Linked DNA regions of Homo sapiens: region 1 is linked to region 2. A link means that fine-mapping ties the variant in region 2 to the expression of a gene that starts in the linked region. Tissue or cell type: fibroblasts. Region 2 holds a variant in brackets; the other region holds the start of a gene. All regions are shown on one strand. Distances are between the middles of the regions.

Evidence for each region. PIP is the estimated chance that this variant, and not a neighbour inherited with it, causes the effect.
Region 1: it holds the start of GREM2, and the variant in region 2 is fine-mapped to the expression of GREM2 in fibroblasts (GTEx, PIP above 0.99). The same link has a PIP of 0.9 or more in tibial artery.

Annotation. Positions count from the first base shown.
Region 1 is chr1:240,608,675-240,616,784 of GRCh38, reverse strand. It overlaps GREM2 (gremlin 2, DAN family BMP antagonist), which reads left to right and starts at 4,630. Exons shown (of 2, transcript NM_022469.4): 1 at 4,630-4,901.
Region 2 is chr1:240,419,224-240,427,333 of GRCh38, reverse strand. All of the region lies in intron 15 of FMN2 (formin 2), which reads right to left. Among named protein-coding and RNA genes, the nearest start is that of GREM2, 190 kb to the left of the region's middle. The variant G/A (reference allele first, on the strand shown) is at 3,939.

The sequences.
Region 1 (8,110 bases), 190 kb before region 2:
GAGAGATAGATAGATAGATAGATAGATAGATAGATAGATAGATAGATGGATGATAGAGAGATAACCCTAGTTCAAGCTCATCAAAAGGAGAAATCTGATGGACAGCCACCTCCCATTATCTCTGCATGGGTGGCAGATTGGCTCCCTTTGAGTCCAGCATGCTCTCCTAGTCTGGTGTCTGTAGCTGTAGGGGCAGATGAATGTGATACTTCTACAGCTATCTATACTACTATCTAGGTCTCCTTCTTCACCTGGGCTATCGGGTCTGGGAAAGAGTTAAGGAAGTGGCAGGTGCCATGATGGAGCCATTCTGGCCACTCCTTCAGCTACATTTGTCAATCTGAATCTTAGTTTAACCATCTCCTGCGTTCACCGCTTATATGATGTCATAAGCACATGCAGGTCAAAGGTGGCTCTGCCTTCTCTTCACTCTCATTTTGCCCTCTTCACCTCTACCCATCCACATCTCAGAAGTAAGAGTACGGCGCAGAGGCCTTGCTGACATCTAATAAGCATGGGCTAATGAATCAAAAAACCCACAACCACCTGCTCCCTGGGTCTTAAGGGAAAATATAGGGATTGAGCTGAATACATGGTCATTCCCTTTCCTATTAATTTCCCCAGCTCATCTGTGGGTTGTGTTCTCTGCTCCACTGGGGTGACACAAACATGACAGATGGCACTCTCATAGACAAGGAGTTTATTCTGCGACACAGTGAGAGCTATATATTTTGCTATAAAACTCTTATAAATCACTCATATATTCTGGGTAGAATCACCATGACACAAGAGAGATAAATGTTATTTAATACATGTGAACAGTTGAAATTTGTGAACCGCAAGAGCATAGATTCATATGTATCAGTGAATCATAAATATAGATTTCATTTTGAGGTTTTGATGTAAACATACAGTATTAATAAACAAAGTTAATGACTTTCTAGAAAATAAAGGTTTCTTATATGGTGGAGGAATAAATATTGAATAATCAGTAAATTGAAGAATTTACAAACTTTGTGCATCAAAAACACTTTAACAATTTAAAAAGTAAACTATGATAATCTAAGAAATAATTATAGCTATAAAAGGACAAAACAAGCACGTACGGATTTATCAATAAATCCATAAGTTAAAGGGAAGCTATTAAGATAAATAAAGAGATAACCAAGGGGAAAACATTAGCATTAGAATGGCGTCCAACCTAGGCTAGAAAGAAAACACATGAATAGGTACAGACAAGATCAAGAATGTGATCTTACGCTTATCACACTGGGAATGCAATGTCAGTCTTCGGCAAACTAGTCATATGGAAATCTTGTATCTTTGTATAGTAGAGGAAGAATTATAAGCTCTTCTACTTTTTCTTTTTTTTTTTTTTTTTACTTTTTTTCTTATTACAAATTATACATATTCATCATAGAACACACAGATATGTCAAAAGAAGGGTAAAAGACCATCTGCGGTCATCTATAGTTCAGAAATATACTTAGATCGTAATCATAATCTTTTAAAAAATTTAATGGCATACTATGAAAATTATTCAATAAAATTGTAAATTATTCTGTAATATAGTAAAAGCCAATAATAGCATCAAAGATGATTTCGAGCTGAAGTAAACCCTAGGTTACTTAGTCTGACCTTTATAACAATCCCTTCATAATCTCTGCAAATGACTGTGAGTACTTTTCTTGACCACTTCATTGACCTATATCAAAATCTCCAAATCATCACTTTGCCAGGAAATTCTTTCAATTTCCGAAAGCTTTAATTTTGAGAAGTCTTTTGCTATCCTGATTTTTGCCTACCCTTATTTTCTCTCCAGAACAGCACTGGGTTTCGGGTCCACTTCAACTTATTCCCATCCTCTGGCATCGTAACTGTGACTACATCAGGGTGACTTTACTATACAAACTCTTTTAATCTCTAAAATTAGCCTAGTAGCATTTATCTTACATTCCTCATAGAGTTGTTTAAAAAAATCAAGAAAGAAAATGTTTATAAAAATGACAATACATTTGAAGCATTATCTGAATAATAAACATATTTCCTCTTTTACCTTTACTGTTTGAAAATGTTATCATTTTCACCTCAGTTCCTACTCCAAGATGCCTGATTCTCTCTTGCATCTCTTATAAATTATAATATTCAGAATCATCATCTTATCAACTCCTTTGGATACATGCCAATTTGTGAATATCTCCTGTAAAAAGTGCCACACTGAACTAAGCAGGATGATCCTGATGTGGCTGAATAAGTGGAAAATAAAATGATTGTTCTGTCATGAATCTGCCCGGCTGTCCGCTGCTGTGCATGCTGAGATGCAAGCGTTTTTATTATTACGGATGTCTGTGTCATTTATAAAGGATTTAAGAAATGTCTTTGAAAAACTCTTTTAAAGGTAGCAAAATGACGAAAAGACTAAATATAGAATAATAAACACTGACGATTTATTTTCCCTTAACCACACAACTGATGGGGTATAGATGTCCTTTAAATCATCCAGTTTTGCTCTTCATTAACTGAAGGACAGAGGGCTTGAATTATTATCTAAAATGAAGTTTAAGATAGATCTGTGACTTTAAGTCACCCATGATTTCACTTACACTGTCTTTTCAGTGCTATGAAGAGCTATAATGAGCCCTGAAAATAACAAGCACAAAATACAATGATCTACTTGGTTTTCTCAGTAACTGTTTCTCTCTTTTCTAGAAAGGCAATTCGAAGGCAAATTATTGGTAACTTATCTGAAAATAACATGACCCGTTCTGAAATAACATAAATGACTATTTACCAAGTTGGACAGATGATTTCATGAATTGTTAGCTCTTCTGTGCAAAGGCAGGCAGGAATGAGAGTCAGCTGTGTTAACCCTTTGCTTTCCTTTGAGTCAAACAGTTTGTATGAACAAACAGGGCAGTCATCCACTCTCCCAGCTCTATTTGCTGTCTGCCTTCAGCAAGTCACTTTATCATTCCTCCACTCTGTTTCTCCACCTGGAAAATCTGGAATATCATACCTATAACTCCTTTTTTTTTCGAAGACTGTTGAGATCTTTAGAAGAAATACATTCTACACTTTCAAAGATTTATGACAGTATTTTGTTTTTAGCTGCCTACCTAAAGAAAGGGAATGAACTGGAGTTGTTGAAGCAATAAGGATATGCCATTTGAGGTTAGACTGTGGTTAGCAGGAACCAACTGCTAAACGTGGTTTTGTTTTGTATTTCCTTTGTCAATTTCAGCTGATTTCAGGCAGGCCCATTCTGAGAATAAGGCTGCATTTCACAATTCCTGTAATGTGCCCACGTAAGAAAGAAGGCAGGTAGTCTGTTTGGTGATAGTATATTTCAAGAACTAATTGTTATTTCCTGTGAATTTGCAACCCAATGTGCTGTGAGTTGAGTTGGAACTAGAATATCAAATACCAAATAGCATACAAAAGGGATAACACTGCAAAAAAAAAATTCAAGTCAAAAATCAAAACAGAGCTCAGAGATTTCAGAAGCAATGGCTTCTTGTCAAGAATAACTGTCATTAAAATTTCCATAAGCACCAGTGAAATTGATTTTGGGGAAAAGTCTAAGGGAGGGTCTGTTTTATAAGACACACTGAAACTTTATTTTATTCTGAATTTCCCCAGCCAAGTTTGTAAGATCTCAGATTTTTCTTGGGCCCTTTCCCTGCCAAGGGGCCAAAGGTTTATCTCTATTGACACATACAGATAAAAAATTTTCATCCAGGAACCTCTATCAGCAGAGTCTGAATAGTCGTCTTTGGCTGGTGAATCACACTAAGGGAGTCTCAGTCCTGAGATGATCAGTGGTGAGAAGTTCAAAAAATAATGAAAAGAGCAAGCACTTAGGCGTCACAATACGCTTCTGGTATAACGCACCAAGCCGATGGAGCACAAGAATTGGTCTGGCGTCATTGTTTTATGTTCTCTGGATGTTGAAGAGTCTGATTTGCATTAGAAACCTCTGCATTCAATAAACAAAAATCAGGATAATAATGACCAAAGTACTATTTGGAACAGAAAACAAATTCAAGCAATGGGTGTTTTGCACTGAATTCATTCAAGATTTTATTAGTTAAGCTCTCACTTAGGTTATTAGGCTCAGCTTGCTTTTTATTTCACTGGCCTCAGTTACTGCAAACAAAAGGAGCCTGGTGTGTGTGTGTGTGTGTGTGTGTGTGTGTGTGTAAGCGCACGTGTATGAGAATGTCAGACATATCACACACAGGCTTTCTACATTCTTCACATTGGAAACCCATCAGCAAAAGGAAGAAGATCTGAAGGGAATGAGTGTTTTTTTTTTGTTTTTTGTTTTTTTCTGGTTTAGGGGATGGAGGGAGAATTTCTCTACATAAACAAGAAGGTTAGAATTGGAAGTCTGCTAAAAAAAATGTTAGAGCTGACCACAGGGTTGTAAATCCACTGACTGGAAGGAGGAAAAGAGAAACATTGCAAGCGACTGAAGTGTGTGGTGTGGCTGCAATGTTTGTGGGTTAGATGAGAAACAAGCGCTGAGTGAAACAGAGAAGGGGGGTGGCTGGTGTGATTTGTTTGGTGTTCAGAGCCAATAGAAATCCCAGACTCTGATAATATCCCCATGCAGCGCCGAGAGGATTCAGAGCTAAGTCTCCGGGCTCCTTTCACATCTGCAGGAGCAGCCAGCCTGGGACCGCGCGGCGCGGGGCGCGCTCTCGCCTCTCCTGCACCCTCAGCCGGCGCGCTTCTCTTATGGGCGTCTGCTGCAGTCTGGCTGCGGTCGAACTGAAAGCGGCGGCGGGAGACCAAACTTAGACCCCGCTGTGGACTAGAGAACTCAGAGAAGGCAGAGGGAGAGGGAGAGAGAGAGAGAGAAGGGACCCGAGGAGGAGGCTTCCATCACGTCATTGCAGGTACGCAGCTTGTCACGACTAACGTGACACAGACACGGTTTCTGATTTCTACCTTCACCAGGCACTTAGAATGAATTGACGTTGTTTGTTCCGTGGCTGGTCAGGACCGAAAGCCCTGAGTGGACGTCTCGCCGGTTTCACCCCGGGTAATTCAAGCTGTTGGCGTGTGTCTGGGGGCCACAAGGTTTATTCACCTATTGAATTATGCGTGGGTGTAACATAAGGACCTTCAAACTTGACCGTGATCGCTCTTTCTTTCTCTTTTAAATAACGTCAATACCAATATGTTGTCATCCCACCAATAAATACCTCTTGGTGACCGCCATTCTAATCATGACTATAGCGAGGCAAACACCATCCAATTGTTAGAAAGCGGGCTACGAACCTCTCCCACCTACCTACCAGGTTAATATCCTCCCTACAGGAATAGGAACCACAGCGGACTTCGGCAGAGTTTTGATTTTTTAAAGCATATGGCCAAGGTGCACCCGCCTCATGAGGGAAATATCACTATTATCACTACGCTGTGGTTGAAGGAGAAGAGAGAAGGGAGGTAGTTATTTTTTAACGTGATTGTCAGTGATCCTTCCTGTGTACCTGACTTATTTCTACATTGTCTTACGAGTTTAAAAATGCATTTGTATTCTGCACGCCAGGCACGTTCAGTTCCAGGATCTCACATATTACTACATTAAAAAGTCATGAATTGGAACTATCTAGTAGATGTGATAGTTGTAAGAAAATATTGATGTTTGATTTTATTTTATTTGATCCTAAAACTCATAAACTTCTATTTCTTTTTTTTTTTTATTTTGAGGTGTGGGTTTTGTTAAAAAAATCTATTTCCTGAGATTTTATCATGTTTGATTTGAAATTTTAAAGATAGTTATATAACTCCCCACCCCTTGATGACTTGTGATTAAATTAGCATTGCTTAATGAGTTCAGTCTTTCCTGGGAAAAGCCAGAGGGGACTGCAAGAAGTCAGTTAAAAAATTGGTCTTGCTTTGCAGTCTTCAAGGGCTGGCTGGTATTCATGTGGCTCTGAATCCCTATGAAAAGCGCTTTTTCTGCAGTGGAACAGATTGGGACTCCAGTACAGCCAGAGAATGGCTCTGCAGCAGGTGCAGGGGCAATCAAATACCTTACCTTTCGTCTAAACAGCACTCTTCCCAGTGGAGTCTTAGTCGATCATATCCAAACCATTCACTGATAATTCGCAATCGACTCACCATTCAGCCGTGCTTAGCTTTCAAGGTAGCCTTTGTCCCAAGACATGTGCCCGACCAAGGAAGATAAGAAAGTTATAAGAAAGGTATTTGTGTTGTATATCACAGTGGAGAATTTATATCGACCTTTTTTTGTTTGTTTGTTTTTTGTTTCTTATCAGATGAACATGTTCTTTCTGTCATTAAAGGAAATGCATGCTTAGCTCTACCATAGAGTCAGGAAAACTTCATAGTTTTTGCCCATCGACTGATCTGAATGATTTAACTGGGTGCTTTTTGAAATCGTGTCAAAGTATAGACATGGCAAGTGAATATTATATTTGGGAGAAGGCATTTTAACTTTATAGATAAATTTTTTTTCCTTTTACATCAGAAAGAAACTGTAAAGAACTGATCTGTGCAAATAAATATAAGTTAATCGACCCAACTACATTCTATTGGTAAAGAGTTGTTTTGTATGATTGTGAGCATTTGTCAATCTTTTATAAATAAAATAGCTGCAATAAGTTGGGACCTATTTCTGTCTTATCTTTCTAACTCTAAAGCAATGTTGGGTGTGTTGGTAGCAACTTTGTGAGTGTGAGACGGATTATATTCACTTTGTATAGACTAGGAGACACTGATGGCTTTTCAAAGATAAATATAAACAATGCTGTGATTATTCATTGTTTTTTGCTATCATTCTTCACCGAGAGAGGTAATCAACAGTTCATTCTCTATGAATCTTAGTAGAGCCAGCCAGAGCTTTACATACCCTCGAGTTATAAGTTTGGTAAAGTTTAAACAAGGTACATGCCTTTAAATCTCTTTAAAGTAAACATCTCTTTTTCTAATGCAAAGGAATGGTATTAGACTCTCAGTTCTTATTGATATGGAGAGGATTGGCCTGTCTGGGTCAAGGGCAGACACTGAGAGACTGCAGAGGCACAGGCACTCAACAGATTAGTTCAGCCACTTTTGTACTTCAGTGTTGCTACAGCAATTGCCCCTGTGCAACGTGCCAGGTTGCAGGCATGTTCTCAGTATCAGGGTCCTTCAAATATCTACGGACAAAAAAGAATTATTTCAACCAGGGAAAACGTGCCCAGCACTCGGCTTAAATGGGTCACACAAGACATTGTTTTGAAGGACAAGGTGTTCAATTAAAAATTAGACCTATGGTGCCATCTTCTTCTTGGATTAGCTGCTTCTTGATAGTTCTTTTGTTTCTAATAATATTAGGTATAATAGGCCTAATAATGTCTAGAATTAATTTTGATCACATGTCAGGCTAAAATGTGGTCCTCAGACTCAACACTGACCAATGACTTGAGCAGATTTCCCATCACCACCACTTCCAGTTGGAAAGATGTCTTTAAGTGGCCAGCACATTGATGGGACCCAGACGGTGTTGGCGCACTGATTTGTAGAACAGAGTCCCAGAGCCACATGGATGTTAAGGGGATGGAACGTGAGCGGGTGGAAGCACAAGGGTATAAAGTGACATGATATAAAGATTGACATGCTTCAGTATAAATCCTGGAGCCAAAGGAAAATGAAAATGAATGTATTTCCTCTAATTACCTTCAGATATAGATTTTTGATTAGCTTCAAGTATACATTTTTGATGAGACATCCTGAATATTTTAAATAAACTCTCTTGTGTTCTTAGGTATATCCCACACAGGTGTGGGGGGAAAATAAATGCATTTGATGTACTGTAACACTCCTGTCTATACAGGCCAGGAGAGGGCAGCATGCAAACTCTGAAAAAGTGATTTGATACCTCCCCCTGACCATGAGGAAGACTCCGGTCGCCAAATGGCTAAAAAATCTCCCTCCAACTTGAAGTGCCCTCTTCCCTTTGGAGAGCCAACTCTAGAGTCTTAGTAAAGGCACACCATCCAGAAGGGTTTGTTTCTATTTTGGCCTCCAGAATTGGTGCTACCTGGCAAAATCAGAAAAGCAGCAGCATATTTCACAGTGAACTCAATTTCCCTTT
Region 2 (8,110 bases):
CTCAGGAGGCTGAGGCAGGAGAATGGCGTGAACCCAGGAGGCGGAGCTTGCAGTGAGCCGAGATAGCACTACTGCACTCCAGCCTGGGAGACAGGCGAGACTCTGTCTCAAAAAAACAAAAACAAAAACAAAAAAAAAACCATATATATATATATATATATAAAATCAGTTGTAACATACATGAACTAATTGAATTTTTGAACAATGACTTGGTATTTGGTGATATTAGGGCCTAATCATTTTTTAGGAGTGAAACTGGTGGTGAATATGCTTTCTTTTAACAAGGGTATCTTGGGCCTGGCACGGTAGCTCACGCTTGCGATCCCAAGCACTTCGGGAGGCCAAGGCGGGTGGATCACCAGAGGTCAGGAGTTCAAGACCAGCCTGGCCAAGATAGTGAAACCCCATCTCTACTAAAAATATAAAAATTAGCCGGGCATGGTGGTGCGCACCTGTAATCCCAGCTACCTGGGAGGCTGAGGCAGGAGGAGAATTGCTTGAACCCGGGAGGCGGAGGATGCAGTGAGCCAAGATCATGCCATTGTACTCCATCCTGGGTGACAGAGCAAGACTGCATCTTAAAAATAAATAAATAAAATAAAAGGGTATCTTTTAGAGAAACATACTAAAATATATATGGATGAAATTATATCTGTTGGGGATTTCCTTCAAAAACAATATGGGAGGAGGCAAGCGGGTAGGGTTATAGAGGAAACCAAATTGACTACAAATTGATAGTTGTTGAAGTTGAGTGATGGATAAAATGGAGGGTCACTGTACTATTCTGTTCACCTTTGCACATATTTTAACTTTTCCATAATAGAGTAATATTTTTAAAAATCACAAGTGCATATACACACAACATTGGTACCACAAAGTAATAGCTATACACATCTTTTAAAATGGCATTCTAGAAATATTTTTAAGAGGGTAGAATATTGCTTTAAAGACTTCTACTGGATATTGTTTTTGACGATGACTTATGTTCCACAGATAATAAAAATAGACAGCTTTGATTTTTTTTACTTGAAAAGAGGCCATACCACAAACCGAGAACTATTTTATATTCTTTTCAACTTCTCATCTGTTTTTAAGGCAATTCTCTGTCTGGGAATTGTGCACATAAAGAATGACTCAAAATTTGGTTTTTATTACAACCAAAAGAGGTGCTAGTAATTATCCTAAAATAGCATTTTCTTGCCACAAGTTATGATCTCTTTGGAGAAGCATATTCTCTGCAAATGAAACACTATTTAAATAGCATACTGTGGTATTACCAATAGTTATTTCCCATCTATGAGCAGGATTTACTCTCGTTCAAGTATTATTTAAAATCTTGAATTAAAGTCCAGTAATTTTAGTGGTGTTTACTCTGTTGTAGTCTTAGAAGAGGGCACTACAGCTTTGCCCTTATTCATCAGGGAGCAGGTAGTAACTATATGCCAGGCACTACTCATGGCAGAGTGAAGACAAAGAAAAGTGTAAGCTCTGGTTGATGACTTTCTTGAAAAACATTCCTAATGGGTCAACAAATCAAAGAGTCAAGGTACAGAACAAAGCCATTCACCACGTTCTCCCTCAGGTTCACGTGCTGGCAGACATTACCATATGCTCTCAATCTTGGATCTCCTTCTCAACAGTTTCTCTGCTTACCAAATATATGCTTCAAGAAGGAGAAACCCTTTCCTGATCAGGGTAAACCCTTTCATGATCCTGTTCAGAAAATGATAAGCACTGTCTCATGTTTATTCTACGACAACCAGAAGCATATCTAAACAACCTAAGAGAGCACCTTTTGATGTGTGGCAGGTAGCTCCGGAAATGATTCTGAGTATAGAAAAAAAGAATGGATCCACAAAAGCAACTGGGGTGGGGGGAGTAAGCTAAAGATGAGCTGACTTTCAGAATCATAAGTGTTTTTACTTTACTTTTGGCTAGCTGATGCCAGAGAGGCTTCCCATTCCAACTAGAGCAGTAATATCCCATCTTTACCTACCGAGTTTTCGCTTCTGTCATTCTGGCCTCACAGAGCATGACGTTTTGATGCCATACTTGTTTTTCATCTGCCTGGAATGCTCTTCACCCAAGTGTCTCACGGCTCTCTCTCTCTCTCTCTCTCTCTCTCTCTCACCTCATTCAAATCCTTGCTTAGTGAGATCCTCATGAGAAGCCAAAGTAAAAGCTGAACACTTGGCCCAACCTTCCACAACAGCCACCCCTGAATATTCCTTCCTTTTCTCTACAGCACTGACCGCCATCAGAAACACAAGATATTTTCTATGTGTGATAACTATGGCTCTCCCTCCACTAGGATTTAACCTCTTTAAGGAATTTTTAGCATTTATGTTCATGGCTTTATTCTCAGGCACCTGAACAATGCTTGGCACACAGGAGTTGTTTGAAGAATGTTTACTTAAAGAATGACTGTCTCCTGAACAAGGGGCCTAGACATTTCTGGAGGCAAATTTTTTGACTACGTATTAGAAGCAGTCTATTAACCTCAAGCCATGTCTTCTGTGGACTTTGAATATGGATAACTAAGATTTAGTTCTGTCTCTAACCCAGAGTGGTGGAGCTTTGTCGACATAACTTTTTTGAGCTTTGTTCCCCATTTATAAAAGAATGACAGTACTTCCTACCCAATCAGACACCTGTGAGCATCCTTATGGGGATGCCAGGTCCACAGTAAGGTCTACGAGTGAAGGTTCTGTTATCAGTGTGGCAGCCAGAAATAAAAGAGCCTTCTTTAGCCATCCTGGTGTATTTGGAGTGTGATAAGACAAGGAATCTATTCTTCATACAGAGAAGTTAAGGAAAGCAATTCCTTTCCCTCATTCCCATATCCCCACATAATTATGAGATAACTCATGGCATTTATATAAATTAAAACTGATGTCAATATGTCTGGTTTCCAAGAGTACAGCAAGCCAGTGCCACAGTGACTTGATCACCCTTACCCATTTCTCCTTACTTATCTATAGAGTCTATCTCACTTGGCTCAGAAGAAAGTCTGCAGTAGCTACTGCCAAGAGAATTTCTCATTTTATTTATATGGAAATAAAAATATAATCTTTTTCCCTGGAATCACATAAAAGATGGACAATCAGAAATTATATCCTTTAGTTTTGACTCTTTCATATGACTCTATTTCATATTTCATGACATGTTGCTCATGTACACCTATGTATGTATACACAGACACAGAGCTTCCTGCCACCTGTTTAACAGACGTATCAGAATCAACAGTTAAGCAAAGAGACATGCTGAAAGAAATAAATTTGTTTAATTCAACCTCCCTTTCCTCCCACCACAAACATACCTGTAGTTATCAGTAAAACTAACATCACGATTCAGATCTGAGTTGTTTTTATGTTCTGTTGGGGTGTCCAAGCTTTGTGTAGACAGGAACAGATCATTTATTAATTTCCTCTCCCTCTATTGTGAATGCCAACCAGCCTTGGGACCAATGTCCTCCCTCCCTATCTCAACTGTCAATGCAGCAGTTCTGGCTATTTTGAGACACTGTGATGTTTATGTTGAAGGGTAGACATGAAGGGACTCGTGAGGTCTTTTCTTATGCACACATCTATGATTGGACTGGCCTTTTGGCGAGTCAGCAATTCAGTTCTGGCCCAATCTAAATACACCCTGGGGGTCTCTGCCTTTCTCTCTGGTTCTTCTGTGATGTTTTCCTCTACTTTCTTCTCCCAATATCATTGTCCTTTGGGAGTACAGCAAAAAAGGCTGAGTACCAAATGAGACTTTACAGGCAGAATGAGAATTGCACATGTATAACTTAATTTAATCCATATAGGCAGAACCAAGATCATAAAGCCTCTCAGTATGACAGACGAGGCCAAGAGAGCATACCAGTTTAAACGAACTGCAAAGGAACATCATCATAAATCTTCCATTGCTTTTGCGTTTTTTATTGTGCA[G/A]TGTTGGATTTTGTAATATTATTCTTCAGAACAAACTAAAATCTCAAGAGGAAGATCTATTTTCAGTTAAAGCCTTCCACAAGTAACTTTAATTTTTGGAATCCTAAATCATCGTCTTCATTTCCACCTCCTTCCCCCACCCTCCATAGGAACTTACATAAAGTGTAACAAATTTTATTACTCCAATAAGGAAGAATAAATCCCCTTTCACTTATTATTAAAAAAGCCTTTGAGGGATCCTCCATGTCTTCTAAAAAGCACAAAGATATTTTTATGCCAACACTCAGTTTGTTGCAGGCAATGAAAAAATCAGAGGAATTCAGAATGGTAAGAGGATAAACTGGCATTTCTTTTATCTTGAAATGAAGAACTGTGGTACTTACACCTTCAGGGTAATTGTGACCTCAGAGCAGCCAACTGCTCTTAGAAAAAAAGGTAATTCAACCCAAGAACAAGTATTAGTTCATACAAAAGGTGGAAGAGAAGTTTGAAAATCTAAGTGACACATTTTCAGGTACTGACTGGCCTTGAGGGACAATGTAAGCTGAGACCCATGCTGATCCCAAAGATCAAGTAACTAAGAAAAGTTCCTAAAATTAGGAATCAGACCATTATAGTCAGCGTATATTTGTCTTATATTTATTGCAATAAGACAAAAAAGGAAATAAAAGATATACACATTGGAAAGAAAGAAATACAACTGTCCCTATTTGAAGACTAATACGTCTATGTAGAAAATGCCAAGGAATCTACAAAATAACTCCCGGAGCTAATACACAAATATAGCAAGGTTGCAGGACACAAGTCAATATACAAAACTCAACTGCTTTCCCATATACCAGCACTGAATAATTAAAACTTGAAATAAAAATTATATAACTTACAGTATCACCAAAAAATAAAATACTAAGGTATAAACCTAACAAAATGTGTACAAGATCTATATGAGGAAAACCACAAAACTCAGATGAAAGAAATCAATTTTTGGAAAGAAGAACTAAATAAAGAGATACTCCATGTTCATGAATAGGTAGACTCAGTAGTCAAGACGTCAGTTCTTCCCAACTTGATTTATTGACTCATTTCAATCCCAATCACTTTCCTAATGAGTTATTTTGTAGATATCAACAATTGATTCTAAAATTTATATGGAAAAGCAAAAGATCTGGAATAGCCAACACCATACTGCAAAATGATGTTGGAGGACTGATACTATCTGACTTCAAGAGTTACTATAAAGCTATAGTAATCAAGACAGCATGGTACTGGCAAAAGAACAGACAGACAGATCAATGAAACTGTAGAACAGAGTGCCCAGTAGACTCATAAAAATATAGCCAACTGCAGGAGGAGTAGGTGGCTCTCTCCTCTCTCCCCATGCAGGTCCAGTTCTCACTCTCTGCCTCTTCAAACCAGGAAGCTGGTGCTCAGGAGCCATGACCTGGTGTCTCCTGCCCATCCTGGTCCCAGGTAAATGTGGAAACAGGTATGAGAGCCTGTCCTTGTCCTTGATTTCCCCCACCCCCACCACAGGCCTCACAACACTGCTACCTAAGAAAATGTTCTCCCATCCCCTGCTAGCCTGGTCAGTGGTCATCAAATTGGAAGAGGATCTGACAGGAGTGTAAATATGAGATAAAATGTCTTGGTTGTACCTGCTTGTGGTTTAGATTTGTATTTAAACAAACAAGGAAATAAACTTGAAAATTATTGGTCATAATAAAAAATGAAACAAGAAAAATTAAAATATTTATTGCCAGGCCAAACCCACACCCCCCACAAAACAAATATAGTCAACTATTTTTTGACAAAGGAACAAAGGCAACTCAATGGAGAAAGAATAGTTTTTTCAACAAACGGTGTTGGAAAATTTGATGTCCATTCTAAGAAAAAATGAACATAAACATAGACATCCGATCTCCCATCTTTCACAAAAATAAAACAGACAGACCTAAATTATTGGTCAACAATTTGTAGAATGGTGGCAATAAAAATTAGGTAATTTGAACGTGTTATATTATCTGGAAAAGGGACAAAGATGTTAAATAAATATTGTTAATTTAAAGGTAGACATTAAAATTAAACGAAATGAAATGTATCATTTCCATAGCATCAGATGTGTACCATCTGAAAGGTACACACCTTTCAGATCTTCCACATTTCCAATTGCAGGAAAAAAAAGTTGGCCAAGGGCCTTGGCTGCCATGCTCTGAAACCAATCACTTCATTTGCACGGAGGTCTAGGTTTGTTTCAGGGTAGTGAGTGAGCTGCAAGAATACTGATACAAGTGCAATCCTACAGACACAAGACTCCTCTAAAGGGGACTTTGGCTCAAGGACTCCCCATTGGCTTCGACAAAACTTTCTTATAATTGCACTGCAGTCCAAGACTTTTCTCACCCAGCCTTCCTTCCTTCCCTCTCCTCCATGGAGGTTGGACCTGCATCAGGTCTAACAGCTGTCCCAGCTTCCTCTGGCTCCCTTCCTGTTTTTCCAAATAAATCCAATCTTGGCACTTGCTTTTTGTAGAACCTGAACTAACAGCAGGAGCACAAGTAGTCTGCGAGAACCGGGACTGAGATGGAGTTCTGGGACAGGTTCTCTTACCGGCCCCCTGTCCTGTGTGGGAATGTGGGGCATGGGCAGTCTCTGGCACACGGTGGCTATGTGATTGCTGAAGACATCACTAGAGCTAATCTGATAAAATATCCTGGTGTCCACACCAGCTGTGACGGCATCCACACCAGCACATTTTATCAGGTTAGCTCAGGTGATATCTTTAGTAAAAATGTCCTGGTGTGAACACCATCACACCTTGCAACAAATGGCCCGCCCCCTCAGAAGCTACCAGCTCTTCTCTTGGCTGCAGGACAATAGGACAACAATTAAGGAGACATCCCTGGAAGACCCAGCTAGGGAAGTGCTAGGCCTGAAAAGGGGTAAGAGATCATATATGGAAGGTGATGCAAGAATTAGCTACCATGTAGTGGAGCGATTCAGGAAGAGGCTCTTCTCTTATAGGTCTCTTCTGAGTGATAGCCAATTTAAAGAGGAGTAGGTGTGCTGGGGTTGCCCTGGCAGATGGAAGAGGAAGGAATGTGGAAGCTGAGAGAAGTAGGCACACCAGCATGCATTGTGTGAGTCCAGAAAAACTGAGCAAAGGATTATCCATGGAAGTTCCCAGAGGCCCCACCCAGAGGCCATAAAGAATGCATCAGGAAGAGGGGTATCAGCATCACTGAACAGTGCAGTTGGAGCTCTTCTCTGTAGGAAGAGGTTGCAGAGCTGGGCTCATTAAAATCCACTGGGATGATAGGATCCTAAATAATAGGGTCCAAGTGGTAAAGCTCAATGACCAGAAGCCCGGGTACCACAATTACCATAATAACCAAAAAGCCAAGGGGCAGCCAAGGAGGCCTGACTCTCAGCGGATTGTGGAGATGGTTAGTGGAGCATAGCATCCTTAGGGGCAAATGACAAGTGTGCTGCTCAACCTCTATGACCACAGAAAAGGGCAAGAGTGGGAAAACAGGAGGCTACAGGTGGCTGCTCTATAGAAAATCATGATTCCTTGATCAGTTCCCAGAACTGAGCCAATTTCAGATCCAGGACCCCCTGACCAAAGGAATTGCATCCCTGTGAGGAAGGACCCTGAAACATGGTAGCAAGGATACACTGTAATGTTTCCCCTAGTCCTTCTACAAAGAAACCTGCAGCCATCACTCAGTAGACTGTATAGTGCAAAAGGGAAATACTCAGATGTCTCGAGGGCCACAGGACACAGGGTCTGAGGAGACACTGATTTCCAGAGACCCACAGCTTCCACATGGCCACTTCCATTACTGCGGGAGCTTACACGGTCAGAAGTAATGGAATCCTGGCAAAAGTACAGCTTGTAGTGGTCAATCACCCACTCTGGGTACACAACTGGGATTGATGCCCTCAGGTGTTTGAGGAATAACCCTCACACTTTTTTTTTTGCCCATAAGGACACAGAAAGGTTGAAAGTAAAATTGTGGAGGTGCTATGACAAATGCGAACCAAAAAGAGCTGATATGTACCAATATTAACATAAGGCAAAGTACAAATTTAGGCAAAAAGCATTACCAGAAAAGAGATAGCACTGAAAACAAGATTAGGTTAACCAGGAAGATGAAAAACTCTAGATATGT